Linked DNA regions of Homo sapiens: all the other regions are linked to region 1. The links come from fine-mapping of genetic effects on gene expression. A gene starts in region 1. Each other region holds a variant in brackets. All regions are shown on one strand. Distances are from middle to middle.

Region 1 (6,301 bases):
TATGTCTTTGTTAATTTAATTCAACAAATAAATGATTAGTGTATATATAAGTTGTACCTATATTCAGATGAGTATCACTTTTTCACACCATAAAAATTTCTAAAATACTGTATTTTAAGAACACAAACGATCCTTTTTGGGACTTCATCAAGATATATATTCTTGCCTTCCACACAGAGCATCATCCACTATAATACATGAATGACAAACTTTATATAAATCTTCCCTGAGATAATGCTATGTGTTATTCAGCAATGAAAAACATCAATAAATTGTCCTGCTTCCATTCCCACTACAGTAAAATTATATAAAAATATTAACATATATGTACCTTAATCAAAAATAATAGATGCCTTACATAACTAAACCACTTCTGCCATCAATAGGCAATCCATTCCATTTAAATTCTTAAGGTGAAATACCTGGCAGATCTCAAAACATTTTACTGGTTTTGAACAGGAAGTACATTTTTTTTTCTTCCTCACACTCCAACTGTATTGGGAGTAACGCATGCTACTGGGTGATGGTGACAGAACCCTAAAGAACATCTCCTTCTTTTAAAATGTTAACCACTGCTTCTAATTTCTGAAAAATATTTTTTGCCCTTTCAGTATGTGGCCCAATATTTTCACCAATGATGGATCTCAGCTTCTATTCAGTATTCCTGGAATATTCCACACCCGATGGTAATTTTTGGTCTTCCTTTAGTATTATTCTAAATATTCGTCTTTGTTAAGAGCCACCTTTCCAAGACCCTGAAACTGCATTACTGAGTGTAAAATGACCACATATGGTATGCACAAACACAGCACAGCACGCTGAAAAATACATACATTACCGGCTGACAGACACGGGGGTAATCACACCAAGCAAACACAATAAGCACTCTTTCATTTATTTATTTATCTATTGCTTAGACACACTCATCAAACATATTCAGTGCCCACTGAGCCCAAGGCAGTACACAGCACAGATAATATCTGTTAGGTGGCTTCAGCAAACTGGATTATGTCAAAGTGTGAAATGTGAAGTGAATCTGACTTCATCAAATAAACTGAACTCCAAGGCCATTTCCCAGCACTCACTCCCCCACCTCAAACACACAAGCTTAACTTCGCCCTCCTTCCTCTTCTGATGCTCAGACCATGACTTCCTTCTCATCCTTCTCTTCTCTTCTCTTCTCTTCTCTCTCTCTCTCTCCCTCCCTCCCTCCAAGTATTTCAGCAGCTTTCCTCAGTTCTCTGAGCCAATCCCTCGGAAAAGGAAATCAGCAAAATGCTGAATGGGGAGACTTCACCAGCAGGTGAAGAGGAAAAGAAGAGGGTGTGGTACTCGTTTTCTCCACCACACCCCATCCCTGGAGTCTTGCACTCCAGTCTACTGCGGCTCAAAGCGGGCACAGCAGGTCCCCTAGCTCACCTCGGAGCAGCCTGGCCCAGACCAACCACCCAGCGTTCTCCGCAAAAAACTTCCCTTAAAGCAGCCAAATATTCAAGGGAGGCGGGGGAAATTGGGCATTAGTTCGAATACACATACAACAGAGCACCACGGAGCAACACTGAAAGGCACCTTTTTTAGATACAGACCCTATAGACTCTCTCTCACCCTTCACTCCCTCCCACCCTGAGTATCTGACTGAGAATTTACAGAGAACCAAGAGGCGAAAGGAGAGTGGAGGAGAAAGAGGGCATTACCTCCCGGGGCTGCCCTCAGGGTGCGGGTCAGGATCTCATCCCCGAAGTGGCTCCAGTTCAAGGCACAGCTTTCCAGAGCTCAGCCGGGTTCGGACCTGCGTCCCCGCGGCGCGGTGCGGAGCTCGGAAGCGCGCCGGGACTGCCGCTCACGTCCCCCGCCCCTGCCGCGCGGGCTCCGCCACCCCGCGAGCACGCTGGCTCTCCGCGCTCACCCCGCCGCCTCCTGGCGCCCCCACACCCACCCGCTCCGCGGCGCCCGCTGGGAGCCTCTAGCGGAGGCGAAGGGAACAGCAGGCGACCTGCGGCGCCCAGGTTCCGACGCCGGTTGCAGGGAGCCGGCCAAGCGGCAGCGTGGGCTTCGCGCGCCCCCGAGTCCGCAGGCCGGGTGCCGCCGCCGCCCCCACCTGCCCACCTGCGCCAGGCTCACCTGCCACCGCGTCCTAGTTGCGTTCACCGGTGCCCACAGCTCTCTATGGCAATTGGGGGTGGGTCTGCGGTGCTAATAAAAATTTAAAAAAAAAACCTCTCTGGTAAAAAAACGAAAACCCAAAACCCAAATCCACGCTGTATATCAACCTCCACAGAGAACCCAGTCCGAAATCGTTTTCCAATAGGTTTCAGAAAGTGTGAGGACAGGACACTCCTCTGGCTTCCTGCCTCGCAGCTGGGCAGCGCCGCACCGGCTACTCCCTGACTTGCCAGGCGGGTCGTGCGATCGCGTAGCGACGCCCGGAGAGATCCTCCTAACTTGACTTAACCCCCACCCCATCCCCAACATCTATTTTAAGTTATTGTCTCTGGCAATTCAAGCAGCAGCTTTGCTGCCTCTTACCTTGAGGCGCTGTTAATTCTCCTTCGTGTCCTTAAAATCCCAAGCCAAGGATGCGACGCACACAAGTCCAGGGGCTTTTCCTGGACTTCCCCCTCCTCAGCTCTGAAGGCTCCTCCTTTCCAAGGGATCAGGAGGGGATGGCGGTTCAAAAGCCCTCACCATAGAGGCGCCTCCAAGCCTTCGTACCAGTGGAAATGGAGACCGGGACCACCTTCCCGGCACCCGGAAGCCTCCCAGCCCCTCCTGGGCCAACTTGGCTGCCTATTCAGTTTTCTTCCGTAACCCCACAGACACGTCAGTCAATTCCCTGGCATCAGGCAGGATATTCTCAGTTGCGGCCGCTCCTCTTGCTTTCTCTCGATAATGCCCCTCCCCCCTTTCTCCCCTTAATTTGGAAAAATTTCTACTCCCTGCCCGAATTAGGTGGGGATGAGGCGGAAAGGTGTAAGAAGAGCCACTCCAAGGCACAGCTTCGGAACACCGTCTCCCTGGGCTGCTGCAGCGCGAAGGTGTCTACGCTGGGGAAACTTTCAGGGGAGGCAGCGCCGGTGCGGGGCTGGGCGGGCGGCGGGCGGCGGCGCCAGGTGAGGAGGCTTTGAGGAGGCGGCTGCAAGGCGGGACGCAGGATAGCCGGCTGGGGCTTGGCAGCCGGGCTCAGAGCTCGGGCTGCGCACACACACAGGCGCGCACACCCGCGCGCGCGCAGCTACACACGCACGCCCAGCCCTGCGCCCGCGGCCCCCGGCCAGTGGCGAGCGAAAAGTCGGGAGTCCTGAGGAGGGGTAGGGGTTCCAAGGATGCTGATGACAGAAAGAGTCAATCAATCCTCACTAGTTAGCGGATTGCCGGCAGGCAGTTCCTCGCCGCACGCCGTTAAGTCCGTTGGGCCACCTCTCCGTTCTCTGCCCTGTCTGGCATTTCAACTCCCTAGCTCTTTTCTTGAAGCCAGTTACACCCCCTCGACACCCAGCGAGAGGCCACCAGACTAAAGATGAGCCCCGTTCCCATCGCCACCCTCCAGGGGCCACCTCCGCCCCTTCTGTAGTGGAGAATTGAAGTGGCTGCAGCAGCTCTCCTGGGAGCTGAGGGGCTCCCCGAGGTCCTTCGAATAGAGGAGCCTACACATCGCTTCGTGAACATAATCCCCTCGCATCCCGTCTTTACCTGCCCACTCCCTTCGTAACATTTCCCCCAAGGAGCTCCCGAAAGTCGCTTAGATGTTTTGAAAATGAATTTCTTAGGGAATTGTAGTGCCTAGCTTTTGGAACTGGGTTAATTTAGGTGCTACGCTTATATTGTAAACTGGACGGTAGCAGGTGAACGGCTCAGCTGGAGAAAGGGGAGGGATTAGGAGTCTGGAGACCCAACCCCTTTAGCAGCCATTTCCAAGGTTTTGCACCAGGAGTAGCTGTCCGGGTCTCTGGCTAGCTCCTGTCCCAACTTCTTTTTCTTCCCTCGACGGTCGGGAGGGATCACTGGGTGCTACACCGCTGGGGCGTCCCAGGCAGGAGAGACTTCGCTCTCAGAAGCGCCCCCGTGTCATCCACAACTCCCACGAAAGGAGCTTCCCAAGAGGAGTTTGTTTTACCCGGAATGGGCTGCAGGAATTAATTGCTTACAGAGAGTAAACTTTTGCCCGTTGTTTTTTTGTTTTTTGTGCTTTTTTTAACCAAAGCTTGCATTTGTGCTCCGCGTAGTTTCTATTGCAACAGAGCGCTACTCTGCCTTTTCAACTGTGAGACAGAGGATTGCTGAGGATTTCTGCCCTCTGGGGCTTCGCGAATATCTATGGCTTCGGACCTGCTAGCGGAAAACGCAAAGTTGCCCAGCTTGGAGATGGCACCAGGTTCCTTTGCTCTGGCGCTGGATGCTCCGCTCCGCCACCCACCGCCGCCGTCTCCATCGAGAATCTCCTCAAAATCAAGGGAGTTCTTGACTGTCCCTCTCCAAATTGGAAGGCGGTTGACTTTGCCGGGAACCGAGTTCCTGAGCGGCAAACGTGGAGTCGCAGAGCGCAGAAGTGAAGATTTAATACAAAAGATGAAACTTGTAGGATGACCTCTAGCAGCGCTACTCACAGCTCTGAAATCGATCCAGAGCATTCCACAGTGAGCGTTGCGGCTCCCAGGGGCTCCGGACCGGTAACTTCAGGCGCAAGTCTGAATTTCAGGGATGAACCTGCTTTGGATTCTGTTTGAGCCGACTCAGTGCAGAGGCAGTGACAGGGGCTGTGGGTTTAGGGGTGATGGATCCATGAAGGCTGCCACTTGGAGCGAGCAGACAGTTGGCGATACCCTCCCACTAACTTGCTCCGCTGCTCCGGGCTGTTCACAGACAGACCCACGCGTAAGGATTTAGAGTGTGTATGTCCAACGCCCAGACTTAACTTCTGGTGCAATTAAGGGAAGAGCTTGAAGCTAACCCGCGCAGCTTGCCTGAAGAAGTGAATAATGAAATCGGTGATGAGGTGCTAAGGAATAAAAAGAGGCATTTTGTTTGCGTGTGTATTAGTTTGCCAGGATTGAGTTTTTAGGTTTGATGTCCTAAAATGTATCTTCGACAGTGACTCTTTTGCAGCCTTTCAAGAGGAGGATGTTCGGCAGTATTTTGGAACCTGGTATGAATCTATACATTGTCTGCGTGCCGCAATATTTGATGCCTCTTCGAGTTCTAATTCTTATTCCTAATTAATAAATGACTGTTCCTGATAATGAAGTGGGAATAAGAATTATAATAAACTATTTCCAACAAAAGGCCATCTTTAACTTATGATTTCTGATTGTATAAGCCTATCAATTACCAATAAAATATTCTGCAGACTATTAGGCATGAATTGCAGAGCTGTAATGAAGAGACTCACTTGGTTCAAGAAAATTCAGAATTTAGAGCGACTCCTCTCCAAAAAGGTTGTGACTTCAAATTCCTTTCTTGGTTGCTGTTGGTATGCAGGCCACTGTCTGCAACTGAAGTTTCTGTTTAAAGTAAACATAGGTTATTTACATATTCATTAACTTTAATACGTGAAGGGTGCCTTACAGTGGTAGGAAATGTTGTGGAAAGTCTTGTACCAGCCATGGCGAAGTCTTTTTACTTGCTTTGAGTTTTTGATGTATGCGATGTGTATGCAGTAGTGGTAATCCATAGCATAATATTCTTGACATTTAAGCACCCTCAAAAAAAATAATAAAAACCTGTAGATTTATGGATCCTGTTCAAAAAATGGAAGAGGATAAGGATCACCCTTTTCCCCCTCGCCTTTTACATTTTGCTTTTATGGGGGAAATTATTTAACAAACAAGGAGAGCAAACCTCAGGATCAGAGGATGTACCCCATTCCCGCTACCCTTAGGTCTATCTATGGAATTGAAAAGAAACTATTGAGACTCAAAGATACTGTCAGATCCAAGAATCTGATTTCACCACCAAATTAAAATAACTACAGCATTATTCCAGTGTTGTCTATGTATTTATGTTTTCTGATAATTGAATTTGAAATATATGATATCTCTTCCAATGGAAACATCTTGATCCTTTTCCCTCCTTAAGATCATTTCTCTACAAACTGCCATTTTCAGAACACCTTTTACTTCTCTAGAGCATAGCATTCAGTCTATTGGTGTACTGTCTTTTCATAGATAAAAGCTATTCTTTCTTTACTGGTATGCCTTTGCTACTGTACTGTGAGCTCTGAGAGCACGGATCTTGTCATTTACATTGTTGTTCCCCAGAATCTATACAGAATCTAGTACACAATAAAATAGATGTATATGATGAT
Region 2 (6,301 bases), 90 kb after region 1:
CTGATAGGTACTATTCTAAGTATTTTACATATTTTCATGTATTAAATAATCACCATGATTGTATGAAGTAATTTTATAAATTCCATATTACAGATAGGAAAGTGAGCCACATAGAATCAGCCCATGGTTCTTGACTCCAGACCCTACAATGTACTACTTTCAGGAGAAAGGTACATTCTATTCTCAGGTTTCTTAAATAATTAGTTAAATATGCAAACTGACCCAACAATTCCAGAATTTCTCTTAAAGAAGTGATTAAAGCTATGACAAAAACTTAGGTACAAAAGTAGACATTGCGGCATTATATACAATAGTAAGAAATTAGAAACTGTCTAGTGTCCAGCAATAGATAATTTATAGTTATATATCAATACTGTGTATGCAGATTAAAGACTTAAATGTAAAATCCAAAACTATGAAAACCCTAGAAAAAAACCTAGCAAACCACTGGGGACATAGGCATGGAAGATTTTATCATGAAATTGCAAAAAGCAATTGCAACAAATGCAAACATTGACAAATGGGATCTAATTAAACTAAAGAGCTTCTGTGCAGCAAAAGAAACTATCATCAGAGTGAACAGACAAACTACAGAATGGGAGAAAACTTTTGCAATCTCTCCATCTGACAAAGGTTTAATATCCAGAATCTACAAGGAACTTAAAGAAATTTACAAGAAAAAAAAACCCCATTAAAAAGTGGACAAAGGACATGAACAGATAAAAGAAGACATACATGCAGTCAACAAACATATAAACAAAGCTCAACCTCACTGATCGTTACGGAAATGCAAATCAAAACCACAATGAGATACCATATCACACCAGTCAGAATGGCGATTATTAAAAACTCAAGAAAAACAGATGCTGCCAAGGTTGCAGAGAAATAAGAACACTTTTACACTGTTGGTGGGAATGTAAATTAGTTCAACCATTGTAGAAGACAGTGAGGCAATCCCTCAAAGATTTAGAACAGCAAATACCATTTGACTTAGCAATCCCATTACTGGGTATACACCCAAAGCAATATAAATGATTCTATTATAAAGATACATGCATGTGTATGTTTGTTGCAGCACTATTTACAATAGCAAAGACATGGAATCAACCCAAATGCCCACCAATAATAGACAGGATAAAGAAAATGTGGTACATACAACACCATGGAATACTATGCAGCCACAAAAAGGAATGAGATCATGTCTTTTACAGGGACATGGATGGAGCTGGAAGCCATTATCCTCAGGAATCTAACACAGAAACAGAAAGCCAAACACCACATAATCCCACTTATAAGTGGCAGCTGAACAATGAGAATATATGGATATAGGGAGGGGAACAACACACACTGAAGACTGTTGGGGGAGGGCGGAGTGGGGAAGAGCATCAAGAAAAATAGCTAATGCATGCTGGGCTTAATATCTAGGTCATGGGTTGATAGGTGCAGCAAACCACCATGGCGCACATTTACCTATGTAAAAAACCTGCATGTCTTACACATGTACCCTGGAACTTAAAATATAATAAAATTTAAAAAAATACTTAGAAAACAATTTAATTATGTGGGTGATAATTTTCATGTGTTAATTTAAGCAAATTATGGAAGAGTCTATACAGTATAATGATAATCTTCATAAACACAAATCTATGTTAACACACACACAAGTGTGAAATATTTGAAAGTTTGTTCACTGAAATGTTACTATATTTATCCTTGGGTGGTTATGATATTGGTAATATTGAATTATTTGTCTGTATATTCTGATTTTTCCATAATGAGAGTATGTTTTCAAAAAAAGTCTCTGTCACAATCACAAGCTCAACACCTGTGACACTTCATGACATTTAGAGAGAGTTAAGCAAGTCCTGCAGAAACTCTGGAGTTCAAAAGGAGTATAAATCAGTCAACTAGGTAAAAATATGCATCTTTTAACAAACATGAACTTTCAGCCAAGGACAAAGAAGACTTTGTAAGTTGTATAGAAAGGAGTAAGCAATAGGAAGGTGACTTTTTTCATTTCCCACTAATGTATCTGCTAGCACTTGCTTTTAGTGGTTCTAAGAGTCTAATGCCTGTTTGTCCTAAATGATGGCAGTTTCACAGCTTCCTGTGGTAAATAGATTGTTCTAAAAACTCACAGTTTAATAGTCAGAGCAATCTTTCCTGAGAATCCATTCTAAGGGTTCCTTCTCAGTTTTCTCCTAGTCAGTCTTTCTTACATCATGCTAATTATTGATTGCTTCTAGCCTTTGCAGACTGGCTCATTCCTTGGGTTTTTACGGCAGCACCCTTTATTCTTAGATATTCTCCTCATAGCATAACTCATTTGTGTCCTCATCACCTTAGTTTGACTTCTTTGTATTTCCTTCATTTGATTCATATTTATTTGGTTTCCCTTAGTGCTTAAAGCTCTCATTTCTTGTTAACATCATTTAAAAAACCTTTTTAGAAAACATGATAACTGGTCAGACTGCTATGATTTATATATTATTAACTTTTAGGTTCTGAGAAAATTTACCCAAAATGTAAACATCATAAATTAGCTTTCTTTTGTTTACTAAGCAGAAATAGCAATTTATTTTCCATGGATGAGTAGAATGCTTTACTGTGAAGTTTATTG[A/G]CCTTTTAAGCTGATATTCTGCCATACAGTGTGACATTCTGCCCTACAGTGTGACATTCTGCCCATGAGAGTTTCCCCATAGATTGTCCTTGGGAGGAAGAGGAGGAATGGTGTATGCAGATTGCTTAGGGATTGTTTTACCTGCTCTCACTAGACTTCATGTGAATTTACCTTACTAGGAAACACTCATACAACACAGGCTCTGGAGCCAGACAAGCCTCAGTGTAAGGCCAGATCTGCTATTTCCTCGCTGTATGACCACAGGCACATTGCTTAAAGTCTTTAAGGCTTTGTTTCTGTATTTATAAGGAGGTAGTAATATCTACCTTAAAGTATTGTTATGAGGATTAAATAAAATAATTTATAAAATATTTTATATTCAGAGGATGCTCTGTGAAAGGTTTTTGAATGAATTAGTGATATAATTATTTTTTACTCTTCATATTCTTCTCAAGGTATCATGGTAACCTTAGATACTTATTTAGATGTTGTTATAAATGTTTAATTGATGCTCATTTTCTTCTAATACTTCTGTATTAGTTTGTTCTTGCACTGCTATAAAGAAATACCTGAAACTGGGTAATTTATAAAGAAAAGAATTTTAATTGACTCACAGTTCCACATGGCTGGGGAGGCCTCAGGAAACTTACAATCATGACAGAAGGCAGCGGGGAAGCAGGCACTTCCTACAGGGCTAGAGCAGGAGGAAGAGTGAAGGGAGAGGTGCACATATTTTTAAACCAGATCTCATGAGAACTCACTATTATGAGAACAGCAAGGGGGAAACTTGCCCCCATGAGCCAATCACCTCCCCACGGACCCCTCCTCCAACAATGGGGATTACAGTTTGACATGAGATTTGGGCAGGGACAGAAATCCAAACCATATCAACTTCCTATGGTTTTAAATGTTTATTTCAATTCAAATGAATAGTATTTTTCAACAAGAAATGACATTAACTTATTTCAAGGGTTACTAGCATTAGTCTTGACAATGATTTCCTTCCTTACTGAGACAATGATCTCTAATAAACAAAAATAGAAGTATAATTAAGGAGTAAGTTATGTATGTTAATTAGCAGGCATATGTTACTGTATATAGACTGGTCAATTGTTACTGTCCCACTGCTCTTTAATACAGATGCTTCTGTTAGCTTGCTTGACCCTGTCATTAGGAATGTCAAATTATACAAAAGTATATACCTTGACATTATTCTTTCACTTTTCCTAGACTTTCGTATTTTAGATCTTAGCTGGCCATTTGGTGACTTCTTGTAGTGTTGTCTACTAGCTTTATCTATGGGTTTGTATCAGGCAGACCTGGGCTGTCTCCCTAGAACTGTCACACATATTGCGTTCTTGGGTAAGTGTATTAGTCCATTTTTATACTGCTATAAATAACTGCCTGAGACTGGATAATCTGTAAAAGAAAGACATTTAATTGACTAACAGTTCAGCAGGGCTGGGGAGGCCTCAGAAAACTTACAATCATGGCAGAAGGAGAAGGGGAAGCAAGGCACCTTCTTCACAGGGTGGCAGGAAGGAGAAGTGCTGAACAAAGGGAAAAGAAAACCATCAGATCTCCTGAGATCTCACTCACTATCACAAGAACAGCATGAGGGAAACCACCCTCATGATTCAGTTACCTCCACTTGCTCTCTCCCTTGACACGTGGCGATTTTGGGGATTATAGGGATTTGGGTGGGGACACAAAGCCTAACCATAGCAGTAAGTTAAGTATCCTACCTAGACTTAGATTCTTTACCCATAAGAAGAAAATAATAATAGTGTTTACTTTAAGTTGTTATTTTAAGGATTATTTTAGGTAATGCTATTGAAACACTTAGCACAAACCTTGCCACATTGTAAGTACTCAACTGTAACTATTTTATTATCATTATAATTTAAAAGGTCATAGTAAATATGTCTATTACAACATAAATGAACAAGATCAAACATGGGACAAATTCTGAGGTTTGCAGTAAAGGAATTAATTTCTTATGAATTGAAATGATGCCAAGTGCCATATTAAAATCCCCATCTAATTTGTGCAGAAATCATTCAATTGCTTTTTCAAAAGATGTAAATAAGAAACTGATATGGAACAACAATGTTTTAATTCTCCAGATAAAGGGGGATGCATTGCATGATAGAAATGGCTAATCTATTTTCCTGAGTCTTTTTATTCAATACAAGTAAGTGAACAGGATGAACACAGGGAAAAAATACTAAGGGAATCTTTGAACTGGAGATTAGCATGTAAAACACAAAACAGAAGTGGCGAGGCAAGGAAGATAAACAGATTTGTTACAACAAAAGCTTGAAAAAAAAGGAAATTTGTTTACAAGGAGGTGAAGATATATGTGGGAATTTATGTGACATAAAAAGAAATTATTATGATTTCTGGAAATCTTGGAACTGAAAGATGTACCTTATTTCCCTTTTCTCCTCCCAATCTGCCACTCAACTGCATTTAAAAAATTTTTCCTATTGGTTACTGTCATTATTGATGAATTTCACAGTGTTGGTTCTGTGGGAAGCAGACACTGACACAAATTTTAGTGTTTGGGAGCAGCTATTTGGTCAACACCCATAGGAGAGAGGGGAAGAAAGCAGGGCTGGCAAATGGGCTTGGATAAATCAAGCTGTTATGCAGATCTAACAGCCTCAAACCACCCTAGAGGGATCTCTTGAGCTAACATTTATGCAGCCAAAAAACACATGAAAAAATGCTCATCATCACTGGCCATCAGAGAAAAGCAAATCAAAACCACTATGAGATATCATCTCACACCAGTTAGAATGGCAATCATTAAAAAGTCAGGAAACAACAGGTGCTGGAGAGGATGTGGAGAAATAGGAACACTTTTACACTGTTGGTGGGACTGTAAACTGGTTCAACCATTGTGGAAGTCAGTGTGGCGATTCCTCAGGGATCTAGAACTAGAAATACCATTTGACCCAGCCATCCCATTACTGGGTATATACCCAAATGACTATAAATCATGCTGCTATAAAGACACATGCACATGTATGTTTATTGCGGCATTATTCACAATAGCAAAGACTTGGAACCAACCCAAATGTCCAACAATGATAGACTGGATTAAGAAAATGTGGCACATATACACCATGGAATACTATGCAGCCATAAAAAATGATGAGTTCATGTCCTTTGTAGGGACATGGATGAAATTGGAAATCATCATTCTCAGTAAACTATCGCAAGAACAAAAAACCAAACACTGCATATTCTCACTCATAAGTGGGAATTGAACAATGAGATCACATGGACACATGAAGGGGAATATCACACTCTGGGGACTGTGGTGGGGTGGGGGGAGCGGGGAGGGATAGCATTGGGAGATATACCTAAGGCTAGATGACAAGTTAGTGGGTGCAGCGCACCAGCATGGCACATGTATACATATGTAACTAACCTGCACAATGTGCACATGTACCCTAAAACTTAAAGTATAATAAAAAAAAAAAGAGAGAAAGAGAAAAAAATAAAATAAAATAAAATAAAATTACATCCCACTTCCCTCCAAAAAAAATAAAAAAAATAAAATAAAATGGCCCATCAGAGTTACCCTTTCTTGAGCTAAAATGGCTGGGCCTTTAAAATCTTGTTTCAGTTAGTCACTGCATGATAGGCCACCCCTAGAACTGTATGACCTTG
Region 3 (6,301 bases), 320 kb after region 1:
ACCTGACAACTGAATATATATTGACTCTGTCCACTGTTTATATCGTGGTGAAATATACATAATATAAAATTTACCCCCAATCATAAAAGTGTACTATTCAATAGCATTGAGACCATTCACAATGTACTGCAACTCTGACTACTATATAGTTACAGAGCTTTTTCATCACCCCTAACAGAAATCCATATATATTAAGCCGTCACTCCCCAACACCCACTTAGTCCCTGGCCACTACCAATCTGCTTTCTATCTCTTGAATTTGCCTATTCTGAATATCTTATATAAATGAAATTATACAATATGTGGCCTTTGCGTCTGGCTTCTTTCACTTTGCATAGCACGTATCCACAATTTGTGGATATGTCTATTAAATTCACTTGCCCATTTTTAATTGGGTTGTTCTATTCTTGCTGAGTTGTAAGGATTCCTTATATATTTTAGATACTAAACCTTTTTGAGAGATATAATTTTCAAATATTTTATCCCAAAGACAATCGTGTCTTTTCACTCTTTATACTGTCATTTGTTGCATATTTTTTAAAAAATCGATAGTCTAATGTATTCATGTTTTCTATTTTGTTGCTTTGTGCTCTTGGTATCATATCTAGTAAATTATTGCTAGATCTAAGGTTGTGAAAAATTGCCTAAATGTTTTTCTTTAAGAGTTTTATAGGCTTAGCTCTCATACTTAGGTGTTTGATTCATTTGGAATTTTTGTATTTAGTGTGAGGCAAGGGCCCAACTTTTTTCTTTTGCATGTGGATTTCCATTTGTCTGAACATAAATTTGTTGAAAAGACTATTCTTTTCCCATTGAACAGCCTTAGCAACCTTGTTGAAAATAAGTTGACTGTAGATTTACCATTTATTTCTAGAATCTCAGTCTTATCCATTAATCAATATTGTCTATCCTGTGACAGTGCCATACTGTTTGGATCACTGTAAATATGTAGGAAATTTTACAAAAGTTTTGTGTTTGTCCTCCCACTTTGTTTTTCTTTTTCAATATTGTTTTGACCATTCAAATTCCTTTGCAATTCAAGATTTCATTCACCTAGAACTTCAGTTTATTTCTGTGATGTCTTATGATTTTCAGTGTGTAAGTCCTGAATGCCTTTGGTTGAATTCAGTCCTAAGTATCTTATTTCATGATGCTATTGTGGATGGAACTTAATTTTTCTTTTCAAATTCTTCATTGATATTGTATAGAAACACAATTTATTTTTGTGTGTTTGTATTATATTCTGCAACTTTGATAAATTTGCTTATTAGGTCTAATAGGTTTTTTTCCCCTAAGATTTTCCTTATATAAGATCATGCCATCTATGAATATACATAGTTTTACTTCCAATTTTTACTTTCCATTTCCATTTAAATTGACTTTTATTTTTTATCTTGCCTACTTCCTCTGGCTAGGATTTCCAATAAAATGTTTAATAGTACTGGCCAAACAGTCATCCATGGCGTACTTAGGAGGAAAGTTTCCAGGCTTTTATTATTAATTAGCATGTTAGCAATGATTTTTTAAAGACGCTTTTTATCTTTGAAGCAGTTACATTCTATTTCTTATTTGTTAAAGGTTTTAAAATTAAACCAAAAAAGAGTATTAGATTTTTGTAAGTGCTTTTTCTATACCACTTGAGATAACGATGTAATTTTTATTCATAATTTCATTGGTAAAATATATGCCATTAATTTCCATATGTTGAACCATCTTTGCATTTCTGAATAAATCTTAGTTATGATTCATAAATATTTTAATATGCTGCTGGAATTGTTTTGATAATATAGTGCTGAGAAGTTTTCCATCTATATTCATTAGTTATATGGGTGAGCTATTTTCTTTTCTAATATTATTTTCTGGTACTGGTATCAGGGTAATTCTGGCTTCATAGAATGATTTAGAAACTTTGTCCTCCTTCTCTATTTTTGGAAGGATTTTGGAAAGATTGGTGCTAATTCTTTTTAAAATGGTTAAAAGAATTCATCATTTAAAATGCCTGGTCCTGGCCTTTTTTATTGTCGTTGTTTAAAGAGTTTTTATTACAGATTCAATCTCTTTACTCATAATGGATCTCTTGATAGTTTCCATGTGTTTTTGATTCAGCTTTGGTAATTCATGTTTTTTGGAGAAATATGTGCATTTCATTTATTTACCTATTTTGTGGGCATACAATTGTCCAAAACATTATTTTACATTTTATTTTGTACAGGTTTTGTAGTAATATGTCCACTTTCACTTATGACTTTAATGATTTGAGTCTCCTTTCTCAATCTATATAAATGATTGTCAATTATATCAAACTTTTTCAAAGAACAAACATTTGACTTATTTGGTTTTCTCTATTGATTTTTTATTTTCTGAATCATTTAGTTCTGCTCTAATCATGATAATTCCTTGCTTCTGCTAGTTTTAGATTTAGTTTGCTTATCATTTTTTAGTTCCTTATGGTGTAGAGTTAGAATATTGAGTTGAGATCTTTCTTCTTTTTTTAATATAGGTATATGCAGCTATAAATTTTACTCTGAGCATGGGTTTTACTAAAACTCTACATTTTTACAAGTTGTTTATTCCTTTTACTTTGTCTGAAGACATTTTCTAAAATCTTTTGTGGTAAGTTCTTTGACCCATTGTTGAGAGTGTATTGTTTAACTTACATATATTTTGAAGTTTCCCAATTTTCTTATGTTATCAATTTCTAGATTCATAGCATCATAGTCAGAGGAGATTCCTTTGTATAATTAATATCTATATAATTTTATTGAGACTTGTTATGTGGTTTAACATATGGTTTATTTGGGGAAAGGTTCCACATGTACTTAATATTTGGTCTTTTGTTATGTGGGTGAAGTATTCTGTATATGCCCATTAGTTCTAACAGGTTTATAGGGTTGTACAAATCTTAATCTACTTGCTGATTTTTATGCTAGTTTTTCTACCTGTTATTGAAAGTGAGACTATGAAATCTTATTATAGAACTTCTTTCTTTTCTCCATTTTTAATTATTTATATGTTTGGGGGCCATGTTTTTGCGT[G/C]GGTATATGTTTTTAATTGCTATCTATTATGGGTGGATTGGCCTTGACTGTTGCAAACAATAATTGACAATATCTATTATACCTGAAATTACTATATGCACTCTAATTTTCTTTTCATCACTATTTTTTATGGAATGCTTTTGAAAAATGACTTACTTTCAAACTATTTGTATTTTTGGATCCAAAGTGAGTCTCTTGTTCACAGCATATAGATGTATCATATAATTGCTCTATTCTACCTATCTCTGGACTTCAACTGGAGATTTTTATCCGTTTACATTTATATCATTTATTTCTAAGAAAACATTTACTCGCACCATTTTGTTATTTGTTTTCTATATGTCATATATCTTTTTTGTTCCTCAATTCTTTCACTATTGCCTTCTTTTGTGTTCAATTGATTTTTTGTATTGTACTGTTTTGATTCCTCTCTGTATATTATCTATTATTTCATTTCTCAGTGGTTATCTCACTGATTACAATTAACATAATAAACTTAAAGTAGCCTATTATTAAATTAATACCATCTTAGTTAAAATGACATATAAAATCTCTGCTCCTTTACATCTTTGTTACTTCTCCTATATGTTGGTATTTTTGAAAATGACCATATGCTCATTAGCATAGATTTAGAATTATTGTTTTATGTTATATAGGAAAATAAGAGGAAATATAAAACAAAAATAAAATAATTCTGTATTTTATATTTACCTATGTGGTAACCTTTGCTAATGTTTCTTTTCATTTCTTTGCATGATTTTGATTTAATATTTGCTGCCTTTCATTTCAGCCTGAAAGATTCTCATTAGCATGTTTTATAGAGGATGTGTACTAGTAGCAAATGCCTTCATATTTTGTTTATTTGAAGATATCTTATTTACTGTTTTGTTAGGATTGTTTTGCTTGGCATAAAATTTTTGATTGACAGATCTTTCTGTTTGTTTCAATACTTTAAAAATATCATCTTTTTGCCTTCTGGCCTTTATGGATTTTTACAAAAAATTGGTTGTTAGTGAGAATCAACTGTACTTGCTGACTTCCTTATTTTCTACTACTTTCAAGATTCTCTTTGTCATTGTCCTTTGCCATTTTGACTATAACTCAGTACGGATCTCTTGGAGTTTATGCTTCTTGGAGACTATTGAATGCATTGGATGTAGAGACTCATGTCTTTCCTCATATTTGGAAAGTTTTTATTATCATGTCTTCAAAGATGTTTTTTCTGCTCATTTCTTTCTGTCCTACCCATCTGAAACTGCCATTGTGCATACATTGGTACATTTTATGGTGTTCCAGAGATCTCTTAAATATTATTTATTTTTTTAAAATTTATTTTGCCTCCTCAGGGCAGTTTCAATCGTCTTATCTTCTAGTTGAATGACTATTTCTTTTGTTTGCTTAAATTTTCTGTTGAGCTTTTCTAGTAAATTTTGCGTTTTAGTTATTGTACTTTTCAACTCCAGAATTTCTTTTTGGTTCCTTTTTAAATTGCTATCATTGTATTGATTCCCTATTTGTTGAGTCATTGTGCTTCTAGTTTTCTTTAGTTTTTTTTTTTTTTTTTTCCAGTGTCCTTTAGTCCTTTACCCTTTAAGCATATTTGAGACAGTGGGTTTATAGTCTTTTTTTTTTCTTCTGTTTTCCAGAGACTCGCTCTGTAGCCCAGGCTGGAGTACAGTGGTGTGATCTTGGCTCACTGCAACCTCCGCCTCCTGGGTTCAAGCAATTCTCCTGTCTCAGCCTCCTGAGTAGCTAGGACAACAGGTGCGTGCCACCACACCCAGCTAATGTTTTGTATTTTTAGTAGAGACAGGGTTTCACTGTGTTAGCCAGGATGGTCTTGATCTCCCGATTTCATGAGCTGCCTGCCTTGGCCTCCCAAAGTGGTGGGATTACAAGTGTGAGCCACCACACCCAGCCTATAATGTTTTTATAGTACCAAAACTTGTGCTCCATTATTATCAGTTTCTTTGGGTTTTCTTTCTTCTGTGAAAGGGCTATTGTTTCTTTTTTGCAGGCATCATAATTTTTTGTTAAATTGGGGCATTTGTATAATTATGATTTGGTATATCTGAAAATGAAACTCTCCCCACACCTCAGGATTTGGTATTATTGATTACTTTAAGTTGTAACCTATTTTTTGAAGACTGAATTCGTTTGTTATGTATAGTCTCAGAAGTCTTGGTTAATTTGGTGAAGTGGTTAGCTAGTGGTTTAACATATTTTTTCATCCTTCTGGGGTAAGAAATTTATAATGAAAAGAAAAAAAACACATTTTTAAAATCTTTGCCTATTGACTCTGTTTTGGTCACTCCTTCCATGCTTAGTTGGTTATTTCTGATGCTACCTGACCCTTCATTTCCTACTTCTGCTGAACATATACATGAGCCAGAAGTGAAAGGTTATGGAGTCTCAGATCATTTTTGAGCCTGCATTCCATTCTACTTGTTTCTTGGTTTTCCACATTCCCCAGTATATGCAGGAGATTTTTAAAGCTCGTATTTTAGGAAGTGTTTTACTCCACAACCTTTCCTTCAAAGCTTTTGGCATGTCTATTTTTTGCCCAACTGTTATCTCTTGCTCCAGGTAACAGAGGCTTGTTCATCTGCTTTTTGATTGTTTGAAGGCGCTTCCTTCCCAAATTTGTTTCTTCACCCTAACAGAGATCTGAGTTAGGCAAAATAAAGTCAAGCCTCTTGTGTCAGTCATTTAGGCAGACTCACGCAGGTCAAAATATACAAACATGATTCCTTTGGAATAAGGTCTGTTCTGCTGCCTACAGAACCAGGAACCCACACCAGGAATGCAGGTTGCTGATTTCAGGACTGCCATCACACTAGGGAATTGTGTGTGACAAGGGTAAATTAAAACTCCTCAAAGCTTTTCCACTAGGTTTAAGTAGTCTTTCTCATGATTGAACATTTTATTTATTGCTATGAACATTTGACCATCTTCCAGAGTTCTGGTAAAGTAAATTCACTTTTACCAGTTTATAGTTTTTAGGGGGGCACATATTTCTTGGGGGACAGTATACCCTGAAATTCCCTACCCGACCATTTTTCTGATATCTTGCTCAGTTCTCTTTTTTGTCACTACTACCGCCACTTTAAATGAGGCTACTATCAGCTCTTCCTGAAAGATAGTCATATACTTTTCACAAGTTATTTCATAGGTACATTTGGCTCCAGCTAATACATTCTCCATGAGGAGACCATAAAAACTACAAACTATAAACTTGATTATTATTTTTTCTGCTTAGAATACTT
Region 4 (6,301 bases), 110 kb after region 1:
TTGCAGGATAAGGCAAGGAAATCCAGCAACAAAAATGTCTATAATTGCTTTATTTGGTAGTAAAGGAAGTGTGAGGTCCTAAGGGCTACATAGTACCTGGAATAGCAGCTGTCTTGAAATTCACCCAAGTGGGTTGGCCAATGAGGTGAGATTTAGCAGAAAGAAGCTAAGAGTTTTCTGCCAGGGACAAGAGATGGAGCAGGGTATAAGTGATCAGGTAGGTAATATATCAAAAAGTTAGAGAAGGGGACAGTGCAAAACTCCCTTAAGGGAGGGAGGGAAGGGGGACACTCCAAAAAACACACAAATGGGCCTTAAAATAGAAAGTTAGCTTTTGGATGACGACTGTGTTGGAGGGCACCGAGAGCCACATTGTAAAAACAAAACAAACAAAACAAAGTAAAACAAAAACAAAACATTTGACACATAGCATATGCTTTGTCCTTCTTCCTTCAAAGCTCTCTTCCTATTCATATTCCCAATGCTGGATGTAGAAGACAGGTGGGAAGGAACAGAAAAGTTAATTGGAAAGTAAAACCAACTCTACAACTCCTTTCCCCACAGGCAGGTCTACAAGCCATGAGGCGGGCCTGAGACGAGCAAGAGGGGAAGAGCAGTGAGCCAGATTTGAAGCAGAATTTTTGTTTTAGAGTTCACTGGATGTAGAAAGAGATGAGATAGGAGGTCTGGTCAAGATGCTGTTCAACGATAGACAACCGAGGTATTACAAAGCATGTTGGTAGGCACTGGCAGGAGAAAATTCCTGAGTATACCATACCAGGTTCAGCTCAATCATAAACCAATAACCCATTTTTGGCAGAAATCATTTTATTCCCTCTCATCCACTCCATTAAGTTTGGTAATAGTCCTAGTTTTCATTTGGGGATCCTTTCTGGTAAACCTAATTCCTGACTCTAAAAACAGGGCTTATAGCTCAGGCTAAAATATTTCAGCATAAACTCATCTTCTGGAGACATTATTGGTTCAAAGAAGGGTGGCAACCAATTGCAGGTGGCTTGGGCTCCTGGTGTAGGGTTCACTGAGGGCTGGGATGGCAGCTTCAGGGATCTCAGCACCAAGCCCCAGTGGCACCTTCGGAATCTTTATTCCCCCAGCAATGGCTGTGACCCTGAGGACTCATTTGGGTCCTTGTAATTGCCCTCTGCTCAATGAAATATATGGCCTTTTGACTTTTACACATGCTTCTTGCCAACTTTTGGATCTGGGAGAGGGGTTGAGAAGACCTCATTCACATATCTCAGGCCAGGGTTGGCCATGGGAATAGCAAATATAATTAAAGAAATAGTCTCCTTCTGATAATCTCAGAACATCATCATCAGCTCAACTGATACAGAGCTGGAATATTAGAAGTCTTCAGAAGTTGCTTAATTTTTAAGGACGAAAATGCTGAGGGTGCTAATGGTCTTTATTTTTTTCATAGACATGGTGATAAGGATCTGTAAGACACAAGGACATTGGCATAGCTCAGAATGTGATTAAATGTTGTACATGAGAAATATGCAATGCAATTGTGTTTGTCAATTAAAAAAATAAAATATATACAGGATTGCTTTGGGGATATTCCCACCACCAGCCAGAATGTTAACTACATTTTGGATATTTCGATATGAGTTGCATTTTGATTGTAAGGTTACTCAACTTGCTATTCTTTATTCTATGGTGGCAAAAACAAGATAATTCCATCCAATCAAAATGCTTTGGAAGCTTTAATATAAATTGCAAGTTAGCTAAAATTATTAAAAGATGGCTAGGAAAATGCTAACGATCTGTGCAATTTGTTTTGTATTATTTCTCCTAAAATTAAAGTTGGAGAACTAAGTGCAAATCACCAGAACAGCTAATCCAAGTGGTTTTTGTACCACTTGTCTTTCTCATAGGGAGTTTGAACTTTTTAAGTGACATGAGAGCAATCATGGGACACTATACTGACAAAATGTGTTTAACCCTCTATCCAAGTTCATGTCATAGCAGGTAGTTAGGATTGGACACATATGAATGTTTGTTGAAGTGTTGTGCCTCTGAAGGAAAATCACAGATTCTTCAACCACATGTATTCATGTAGATTCCTGCAGAAATATCTGGAGTAGCACTCCTGGCTGGTTTGAATTATGGATTAACCAACGAATGCTTTGATGTATAATATTTCAATGAGAACCAAAGCTATGTCTCCTAGAGGGTTATGTGGCAGATGTATTTGTCCACATTAGACTCCTCATTATATAAGACAGCTGCGTAGATGCAGGACAATATCAACCATGAGGCTTATGCTTGCAGCCCAAGCAGACAACAAAGAGGTATAAAAACATTCTTCAGTGGCTACAGACATCTAGGACACCTAAGAAAAAAAATGTGGGTTTTATATTAAGTTTGGAAGGGGTGGTGTCCATACTTGATACCAAATATTTTAAATATCATTTTCATAATTAGTTATTCTGGGTATAATAAATGGAATTTGAAATCTATGCATGTCTTAAAACTCCTCAAAGAGAAAATTATACGTATTTTTTTAACTTATATTCTTGCAGCTAACTGAGCTTATTTTTCAATAATAGTATTTTTGGTTAACTTTTCTGTCCTGTTTATGGTAAACTCCAGAGGCATGAGAAAAGTTTGAAATTCTATAGAAAGCAGTTTATTTTATGCTTTTATTTAGTCTACGAGACACATTTTCCCAATAATACCAATTAACTACTCAGCCATCTTTTTGTTATTTGGAGAACTTTCATGTTATAGTTAGTAATGACAATTGTTATAAGATAGTCTTTGTGTTTACCAGTGAATGATTACAAGTAAAGTGGAAAACAATTTTCCCATGAGGAACAGCCACCCACTTTTCAGTGTCTACCTGAACTGTCTTAGCTCTGCAGTTAATATACCATTTTAAAATTTTCCTGAAAAAGATTGTTACAGTAGTTCTCTACAGATTTCTGAAAATCTACTCTGAATGTGTTGTGATTAATGTCGGAGGAAAATGTTATAGTAGG[C/T]CTAAAACAGAGAACAAAGTAGTGGTTCCCAAACTGACCAATTTCAGAATTAACTAGGGAGTTTTGAGAAACAGAAATTTCCTTTATCCTGCCCAGATATACTCAATCAGAATTTCTAGGGCTGGAGTGGAGTGGAGGAATCTCAAGAAAAAACAACAACAAAAAAGTTTTCCTGCTCTAGGAAGCCATTGTTTTAAAATTAATGGCAATACCAAATTTGCTAAAGTAACAGAGAGATCTATAGGTTTTCACTTTCACTTTTTGAAAGGTCAGGTTTCTAGACTCTTGGGGAGAAACAAACTGTATCCCAGGCTGATGCAATTAGAGGACAAAGCAGCAAGTTAGAAAAGAAACAAAATGACTACAGAATAATCAGTAAACTGAAAGATTTAAATCATAAATGTATAAGTGCCCTTAAAGAAGATATATGTTATATAGTCTCTAGATCTTTTCATCAGGAAAAGTCAAAATTGTTCATCACAAAGATAATCATTTGCATCGATATGGTAATCTCTTTTGGTCTTCAAAACAGTGAAAGATAGACAGGAACGTTTCTATCTTCCTCATTTTGAGAAGCAAAGCTTGTCTCAAAATTACAGATAATTGAGCCAAGGTACAGAAGCCTATGTGTGCTGATCTGTTCTATTTGGTGCTATGTTTTACAGGCAGAGCTGTGAAGTCAGGGGACGGTGTTGTGGGTGATACCTCACACTCTTTTAGTGTGACAGGAAAGTAATAATGCATTTCTTGTAAATGTTGATAGCAAAGGTTTGCAACTTAAAAGGGGAATTTCATATATTTAGAAAATACTTTGAGGTGAAACCCTCACTCTTTAAAGGATTATTTAAAATGGTAATGCTACTACCTAAATTGGTAGATTGGAAGGGAGGTTAAAGGGCATTTAATCATGTTCCCTCATTTTATAGGTGAAGACTCTAAGGCTCAGAGTGCTTTATGGTTTGCATAGTAATTCATAGCTAATCTGAACAATTTTTGGAAAAATAACATCTTTTCTATTTTTCCATCATTATGGATTTGTTAAAGATACTAAAATGAGCTAATTGGTGATTTGTTAGTTCAAATTGCTAATTTTTTAACTTTAAATTTCACTTTTCATGCAAAAATGAACCTTTTTATAATACTTTGAACTGAAGAAATCTTCTTTTCTAAATAAGATGTCATACAACTGAGATAAAGTTTATTATTTTACTTATGAAGGATTCCACCATTCCCAAAATTAAAGTGTTACTTTCTTTACCTGAACACTAATAATAATGGTGGTTTCAAAGGAGCAGCAAAAGAGAAATATTTTCTATTTTTCTTTACAAGCTGTTTACTGTTTTTATTTTGCTCTCTGGTAATAGACAGAAAATTATATAAAACAATATTTTGAGGGAATTTTTCTCCTGGTTGGTTTTAAATCACTGTGCTCCCTGAAACATTTCAATGTTTAAATTCTTCTCAAGTTATTATATTCACCAGTACCTGATTAATCCATTGCAGATATAAAAATGTATTGAAGAATAATAAATGGATACCATGTGATTTTTTAAAACTTGGACAGCTAATGAATGTGGCAACATTTTAAAGGAGGGGATAGAAAAAAATGTTCTGCATAATCAATAATGCATAATTCATACTTAAACATCATTAATTTCTAGCACTACGACATTTTTAAATGAATATATTGAAACGGAAACAAAATATTTTACAAAATGTTTTCCATATGGCAGTAATCTAAAAAATGGGAAAAATTTGTCATTCTTCACTCAGTTTGGCCCAACAAGACTAAATAAAATATTTGTTATGATGTGATGGAAAATAGGGATCTTCTGGCTTATCAGGAAGTTTCTGGAAGTGAGCCTTTCTTACCTAATTGATGTAAAAAAAAAAAAGAAGAAGAAATGTATAACTTTTCAACTTGTAACTGAAAGAAATGGCAGTTTGGGAATAATGGTAATATTACTGAAGGTAAAGCAGAGTGCTATAGAAAAGCTATCTCTTGATGATATTCTGTGGTCCTTCAAGTAAATTAAGTGCAAAGGTTGGCCTCTTTACTTTTATTTACCTAGGCCAATTAATGCCCTTAATTTTTAAGCCACTTTGTGCTTGAGTTTTCTGTTGCTTATAAATCAACGCCTCTTAACTGATAGATCATTTCAAAATCTAAAATTGTACCATGTGCTGCTGTCATTGATGCTGCGTTTTTCTTTGGGTTTTTATCCAATGATGTAAATGTTATAAAGCCTGAAGCTATATAAGAGTATCCATTTGTAAATCAAATAGATAAATAACCTTTAGGTATAGAAAATAGCCTCAATGGGATTATTGTAGAATTCCCCTAGGAATATCATGAAGAGTAAATATTAATGCCTTTTAATTGCTGTAAACTATAGTGTGAACTATAAAGTTTACACTATTGACATGCAGGATCATGACCAATTTTAAAGATGAGTTGATAAATATTACTCAAGAGAATAAATTCACATCCATATCTGCTCCAAAGTAATTTTCTCAAACTTGCATTTGTGTCCTAGTTAATTTATCAGGAAATGAATCTTTAATTTGGAAATATAGTAGTATGGAAAGTTTGTCAAACTTAATTTCTTTTTGTAGAACACTTGACTACCCATATATGATCTTAATAGGATAGTTGGAAACAGTTGATAAAAGTGGACAGTCTGTTTCACTGGCATAAAGTCATCCTTTTTGAGGTCATTTATATTTGTCTATCTTTGAGAAAGCAACATACTTGGTTTCGGTTTCTAGGTGGAACTTCTGAGTCAAGTTGCTGCTCAGAGCATGTGGTATTTTGCAGACTTCAACTCCACCTCAGCACTTGGTTACTAACCACTTTTTTTCTCTAAAACATGGGCAGTTTATATATTATGAACATTGTGTTTACCTTCAGGATATGGTAGTAAGTAGTTTCAGCCATTACAAATCATCATTTTTTTTTCTCACGTCCCTAAGAGCCCCTAATAAGCATTTCTAAGTTCTTCCAAGCTTCTCTCTCCTTTCCCAACTCAATGTTCTGCTCCTAATCTCAGCTGCTCCTATTTTATTGAGTCATTGGCACATGACTCATCCATTACTGAGATTGAGCTGTGTCTACCCCAAAATTGTGACAAATTTTACCATATCTGAATGGATGTATTCGTCAGTTGGGGCTATCATAGCAAATTACCATAGACTGAATGGCTTCAACAATAGAAACTCATCTTCTCGTAGTTCTGGAGGTTAAAAGTTCCAAATCAAAGTCCAACAGGGTTGGCCTCTGGGGAGAGCTCTCTCTT
Region 5 (6,301 bases), 350 kb after region 1:
TATTAAAATACTGACCATCTCTATTCTCTGATTCAAATGGCTAGTCTTCAGAGGAATGTTTTCAAATTTGCAATTTGATTCTCTATGTATAATTCCATACTTTCATATATTATTATTTCTAAAAGAAGTGTAGAACTCCAATCTATATTTTTTTGTTTTCTTTTCACTACTCTTCTAGATAGGTTTGATATGGTTTGGCTGTGTCCCCACCCAAATCTCATATCAAATTGTAATCTCCACATTTTGGGGAAGAGACCAGGTGGGAGGTGATGGGCAATTTCCCCATGCTGTTCTCTTGACAGTGAGGGAGTTCTCACAAGATCTGATGGTTTGCCCTGTGCTCACTCTCTTTCTCTCACCTGCCACCATGTTTGATGTGCCTATTTCCTCTTTCGCCATGATTGTAAGTTTCCTGAGTCCTCCCCAGCCACGCAGAACTGTGAGTCAATTAAACCTGTTTACTTTATAGATTACCCAGGCTCAGGTAGTTCTTTATGGCAGTAAGAGAACTGACTAATGCAGGAAACTGGCACTGGTAGAGTTGGGTACTGCTATAAAGATAACCTGGAAGTGTGGAAGTGACTTTGGAACTGGGTAATGAGCAGAGGCTGGAACAAGTTGGGGGGCTCAGAAGACAGGGAGATGTGGGGGAGCTTGGAATTCCTAGAGACTTGTTGAATGACTTTGACCAAAACTCTGATAGTGATATAGACAATGAAGTCCAGTCTAAGGTGGTCTCAGATGGAGATGAAGAGCTTGTTAGTAACAGGACTAAAGGTCACTCTTGCTATGCTTTAGCGAAGGGACTGGTAGCATTTTGCCTCTGCCCTAGAGATGTGTGGAACTTGGAACTTTGAACTTGAGAGGGATGATTTAGGGTATCAGGTAGAAGAATTCCTAAGCAGCAAAGCATTAAAGAGGTGTCCTGGATTATTCTGAAAGTGCTTAGAGTTTTATGTGCTCACAAAGAAATGGTTTGAAACTGGAACTTATGCTTAAAAGGGAAGCAGAGCAAAAATGTTTGAAAAATTTGCAGCCTGAATCTGTGCTAATAAAGAAAAACTCATTTTCTGGGAAGGAATTCAATGTGGCTGCAGAAATTTGCATAAAGTAAGTAACTAGTAGGTGAATGTTAATAGCTGAAACCATGGGGAAAATGTCTCCAGGGCATATCAGAGATTTTTGAGGCAGCCCTTCCCATCAGAGGCATGAAGCCTTAGGAGGGAAAAACGGTTTCATGGGCCAAGCCCAGGACCCCACTCCTCTGTGCAGGATCAGGACTTGGTGCCCTGTGTCCCAGCCATTTCAGCTCCAGCCTTGGCTAAAAAGGGCCGAGATACAGCTCGAGACATTGTTTCAGAGGATGCAAGCCCCAAGCCTTGGTAGCTTTTATGTGGTGTTGGGCCTGTGGGTGCACAGAAGTCAGGAATTAAGGTTTGAGAACCTCTGCCTAGGTCTCAGGGGATGTATAAAAATGCCTGGATATCCAAGCAGAAGTCTGCCACAGGGGCAGAGCCATCATGGAGAACCTTGCTAGCGCAATGCAGAGGAAAAATGTGGGTTTGGACCCTTCACACAGAGTCCCCTTCTCACTACTCCATTAGGCAGTGGGACACTACCTAGAGGAGCTGTGAGAAGAGGGCCACCATCCTCCAGTCCCCAGAATGTAGATCCACCAACAGCTTGCACTGTGTAACTGAAAAAGCCTCAGGTACTCAATGCCAGCCCATGATTGTGGCAGTAGGGCCTGAATCCTGCAAAGCCACAGGAATGGAGCTGCTCAAGGCCGTGGGAGCCCACTCTTTGCGTCAGCATGCCCTGGATGTGAGACATGGAGTTAAAGAAGATTATTTTGGTGCTTTAAGATTTAATGACTACCCTGCTGGATTTTGGACTTGCATGGGGCTTGTAGCCTCTTTGTTTCGGCCAACTTCTCTCATTCGGAATGGGAACATTTGTCTAATGCCTGTAACCCTATTGTATTTTGGAAGTAACTAACTTGCTTTTGATTTTACAGGCTCCTAGGTGGAAGGGACTTGCCTTGTCTCAGATGAGACTTTGGACTTTTGGGTTAATGCTGGAATGAGTTAAGACTTTGAGAGACTGTTGGGAAGGCATGATTGTGTTTTGAAATGTGAGAATATGAGATGTGGGAGGTGCTGGGAGTGGAATGATATGGCTTGGCTGTGTCCCCACCCAAATCTCATCTGAAACTTTAATCCAAATTGTAATCCCCACATGTCAGGGGAGGAACTTGGTGGAAGGTGATTGGATTGTGGGGGTGGTTTCCCTTATGCTGTTCTCATGATAGTGAGAGAGTTCTCATGAGACCTCTTGGTTTAAAAAGGGGAAATTTGCCCTGCACTCATTCTTTCACCTGCCACCATATAAGATGTGACTTCTTCCCTTCTGCCATGATTGTAATTTTCCTGAGACCTCCCCAGCCATGCAGAACTAAGAGTCCATTAAACCTCTTTTCTTTATAAATTTCCCACCCTTGGGCAGTTCTTAATAGCAGTGTAAAAATGAACTAATACAACATTCATTAGCATATTAAACTAGTCTTTTAGCTGTCTCTTTCATTATGTTCATTTCAGCTGATGGGTGCATTTGCATAGGTTGAACAATGCAGAGGAGGGGTTGAATGAGATAATTTATCAGTCTCTTTACTTAAAACCTTGGGGGAGAAGAACAAAGAAAGTACAACAAAATACCAGAAGAGACGGGGAAAGAGTAGAAATCAAGAGAGGAAAATAAGCTGAAGTGATCACTGGTGTCAAATGTTGCAGTTTGTCTCATAATTACAGTTACTGTGTTCAATGTTAATTTTCTCAGCAGGGTAATTTTTGAAGGATGTACTTTAACTTCTTCACTCTTTTGCTTCCATTTCAGCCATGCTGGCCTCTATTATTAATAAGATTATACAAATTTCAAGAATGTTGTAGATGGAGAAGGCCTTAGAAATCGTTTACTTCAATCACTTAATTTTTCATAGCTAAAAAGATGGAAGCCAAGTAGTTTGCCTCAAATTCCCAACTAGCAGAACAGTGACAGACTCAATATTTTGGCCTCCTCATCAAAAGCTCTCTATTGCTCTAGAGCCTCATTCTCACTTTACTCTTTTCTTCTGTGTTTGTTCCCCACCCTCTTTCCTAAGGAGATAGTCAAAGGAATATAGTGTTTCTTGATGATGAACACAGTAGGATGCTTCTTGTAAGCAAATGATTAGGGAAGTGAATCACTGGTTGTTGTAACATTTTTTTCTTATGAAGAGCAGGCTTTTGGGTGTGTTGAGATGACA[C/G]TTAGCATTTCCTTGAAACAATGTGTGCTTTTGTGTAGTCAGGTTTATTATAGTCATAAATCATGAGGACCAGTAAGGAGGAAGGTTCCATTTCCTTAGCTTTATTTTGTTCCCTCAAGGAGCGACTATGATGCAAAGGCCTTTATATCTCACTACTGCTAATAAAGGAAAGGCCAGATGATGCATTTTCTTTGCTATCTCCTACTCAGAGTTATACAGCATTTATTTCAGCCTTAGCTTTAATAGATAATATTTTTTCCCTTCATTATATTACATATGAGCAGAAAGAAGGCAATCCTGAATCGTTTGGGTAGAAATCTTAAAAGCTATGTATTTGCTAAGAATGAAATTATTCATGTCTCTTAGAAACCTGAGGATTACAGGCATCAGACCAATGATTCAACAATAAGTAAAACAATCATAATAGCTATAACTCATTGCCTATTTATCTATCATTTCTTACTTTGTACCATGCACAGTTCTATAAACTATTATTGTAATCTTCATTTAAATAAGAAAACTGAAGCACTGACAAGTTAAGTAACTTTTACAAAGCCACACAGTGAAACTCACTGTTTAATCAACAAATTATATATGAGTTCATTTGATTTCCCTTCATTTTATCTAAACTACCAAAAAGACATGTTAGCATGCATAATAATTTCATGTATTTAATTTTCAATACAAAACATTGATTACAGTACCTTAATGAAAATTTGTAATATTAAAGACCTATGAGAAGCTTTTTAACACTTCTATAATATTTAATTCAAATTTTTATTAAAACTATACCACTATAAATATATCCTAAATAATAAATCAATAGGCAATATTATATTTAGGTTCTAAGATATTCATTATAGCATTATTTGCAATAGAAAATATTTGAATCATAAATGTTCATCCTTAGAGAACTATTTAAATGGATTATGACATGTCTATATGTGCCATAAGTAGAATATTATGTAGCACTTGAGATGGTATTTTGAGAAAATGTTAATATCATAAGGTAACAGACACGATACAATATTGAGTAAAATAGTGATATTGAGTAAATATAATATTGAATAAAATAAATTTTACATGCAATATAAACTTCATTGTGTAGACACATACACATCCAGAGAAAAGCAATGGAAAGAAATACACCGAAGAAGTTGTGAGTGGTTATCACTAGATAATGAGAAAACGGAACATTTCTGAGTATGGCTTTATACTTTATTTTCTAATTTTATCCTGTGTACATAAGCAATGAAATTTGCTTAAAATATTATTTATCCTTTGGCTTAAATATTCTTAATAGAGTTGTTATTTCTGAATAAACTAAGGTAGTAGATGTAATAATGCTTCATGAAAAATGTATTGATCTTATAAAATTTATCTGACTTCTAGTTCCTATATGAAAAGTTTTCCTTAGAAAATAGTATTTATGATAATTTCTAGATTCAACATTTAAATAAAATTGCTCTATAATTGTGAACTAAAAAGTGTAAAAGTTAAACATTTGATTAAAGAAATCCTGTGAAATTTATGAAAATGTTATAGTTCTTTGATATAGAATATTTAAAATTTAGAAATACATAGACATTCTATGAAATGTAATTGATTATAAAATTCATATAGCCTAAACATTTTCTCTACCTTTTTTTTTTTTTTTTTTTGAGACAGAGTCTCACTCTGTTTCCCAGTTTGGAGTGAAGTGGCATGGTCTCAGCTTACTGCATCCTCCGCCTTCCGGGTTCGAGCGATTCTTCTGCCTCAGCCTCCTGAGTAGCTGGAATTACAGGCACCCGCCACCATGCCCTAATTTTTTTGTATTTTTAATAGAGACGGGGTTTCACCATGTTGGCCCGGCTGGTTTTGAACTCCTGACCTCAAGTAATCCTCCGTCTCCCAACATGTTAAGATTAGAGGCGTGAGCTACCGCGCCCAGCCCTTTCTCTACTTTTGGAACAAAGACAAGTCATATGAAAGTAAACTTCTGTAGGCAATTTAAGCTTTGTTAGTCATGTGTCAGGGAATTACCAAGAGTAGTTGCTCATTCACTTTCATCTATTAAACTGTCTGAAGCTGTCTTTCTTTTACAATGAGATTAATGATGTGAATGATACTTCTGAAGAAAGTCAACATACGTAGTTATTCAGGTAATGTGTAATACATTTTATATAATGATGACTTCGATTTTAAAAAGATTTTCTGAAGTTTAAAAAAAGTTTTATTATATAACTTATAACAAATGCATACTATTTTCCAGATAATAATATTAAAGTGAACATTGATTACCTGGAACATTCTAGCTAGCTAAAATTTTCCTAAACTTGCATAAAGAACATAACTTACAAATGTAACCCCAGCAGAAAATATTTCCAATCTTTCTTCTCCTTTTTTGCCAGCATTCCTGGTAAAACTGGTCAGACATACCAGAATCTAGATATTTGAAAAGGTTGCTAACTGGCTAAGCCAGATACGATAGCCAAGGTTTCCACAATTTATTTTAGGTTAATTTTAAATATGGGTTAAATATACTTGGCATGGTAAAGATTTCTGAGCTAGCTCGCTTTGTTCCTATCCTCTGACTTTTTCCATTTCACTGCAGTTGTTCACCCACTAACTAAAACCATAATTATCATTTGTTATATTATGCCTGCATTAAGGAGGTGAACATATTAGTTTGACTCTGCAGAAGGAAACGTCTTCTTTCCATACGTCTGCATTAGCTATTGGGAGTCATAAAGGGTAATTTGCTAATGTTTTGATGATTTAACACTAAGTTCATTTCGGATAGTTAAAAAGTTAATTGGCGTTTAAAGATATGAATAAAATCATCCTGTTAGTTTGTGCCCAAATCATGTGTATGGGGTCCAAGATTCCTGTATAAGTTGTTGTAATATCTTCTCCCTATATCAATTAGTTGTCTAAATTACTATCTTGGTTATCCAAAATAATGTGGCTCCTTTAAGGAGCAAAAGCTATTTACTCTTTGTAAACTTAGTGCATATC

What was found. PIP is the estimated chance that this variant, and not a neighbour inherited with it, causes the effect. A credible set is the group of variants that fine-mapping cannot tell apart.
Region 2: its variant is the best candidate, but not a certain one, in a credible set for the expression of LINGO2 in whole blood (INTERVAL, PIP 0.86).
Region 3: its variant is the best candidate, but not a certain one, in a credible set for the expression of LINGO2 in whole blood (TOPMed, PIP 0.75).
Region 4: its variant is the best candidate, but not a certain one, in a credible set for the expression of LINGO2 in whole blood (INTERVAL, PIP 0.64).
Region 5: its variant is the best candidate, but not a certain one, in a credible set for the expression of LINGO2 in whole blood (TOPMed, PIP 0.54).

Annotation. Positions count from the first base shown.
Region 1 is chr9:29,210,396-29,216,696 of GRCh38, forward strand. It overlaps LINGO2 (leucine rich repeat and Ig domain containing 2), which reads right to left and starts at 3,206. Exons shown (of 7, transcript NM_001258282.3): 1 at 2,527-3,206. RefSeq lists a silencer at 1,797-1,846.
Region 2 is chr9:29,300,711-29,307,011 of GRCh38, forward strand. No RefSeq gene overlaps it. Among named protein-coding and RNA genes, the nearest start is that of LINGO2, 90 kb to the left of the region's middle. The variant A/G (reference allele first, on the strand shown) is at 2,621.
Region 3 is chr9:29,525,919-29,532,219 of GRCh38, forward strand. No RefSeq gene overlaps it. Among named protein-coding and RNA genes, the nearest start is that of LINGO2, 320 kb to the left of the region's middle. The variant G/C (reference allele first, on the strand shown) is at 3,036.
Region 4 is chr9:29,316,645-29,322,945 of GRCh38, forward strand. It overlaps the pseudogene PDK1P1. Among named protein-coding and RNA genes, the nearest start is that of LINGO2, 110 kb to the left of the region's middle. RefSeq lists an enhancer at 5,712-5,801. The variant C/T (reference allele first, on the strand shown) is at 3,006.
Region 5 is chr9:29,561,493-29,567,793 of GRCh38, forward strand. No RefSeq gene overlaps it. Among named protein-coding and RNA genes, the nearest start is that of LINGO2, 350 kb to the left of the region's middle. RefSeq lists an enhancer at 4,777-5,976. The variant C/G (reference allele first, on the strand shown) is at 3,302.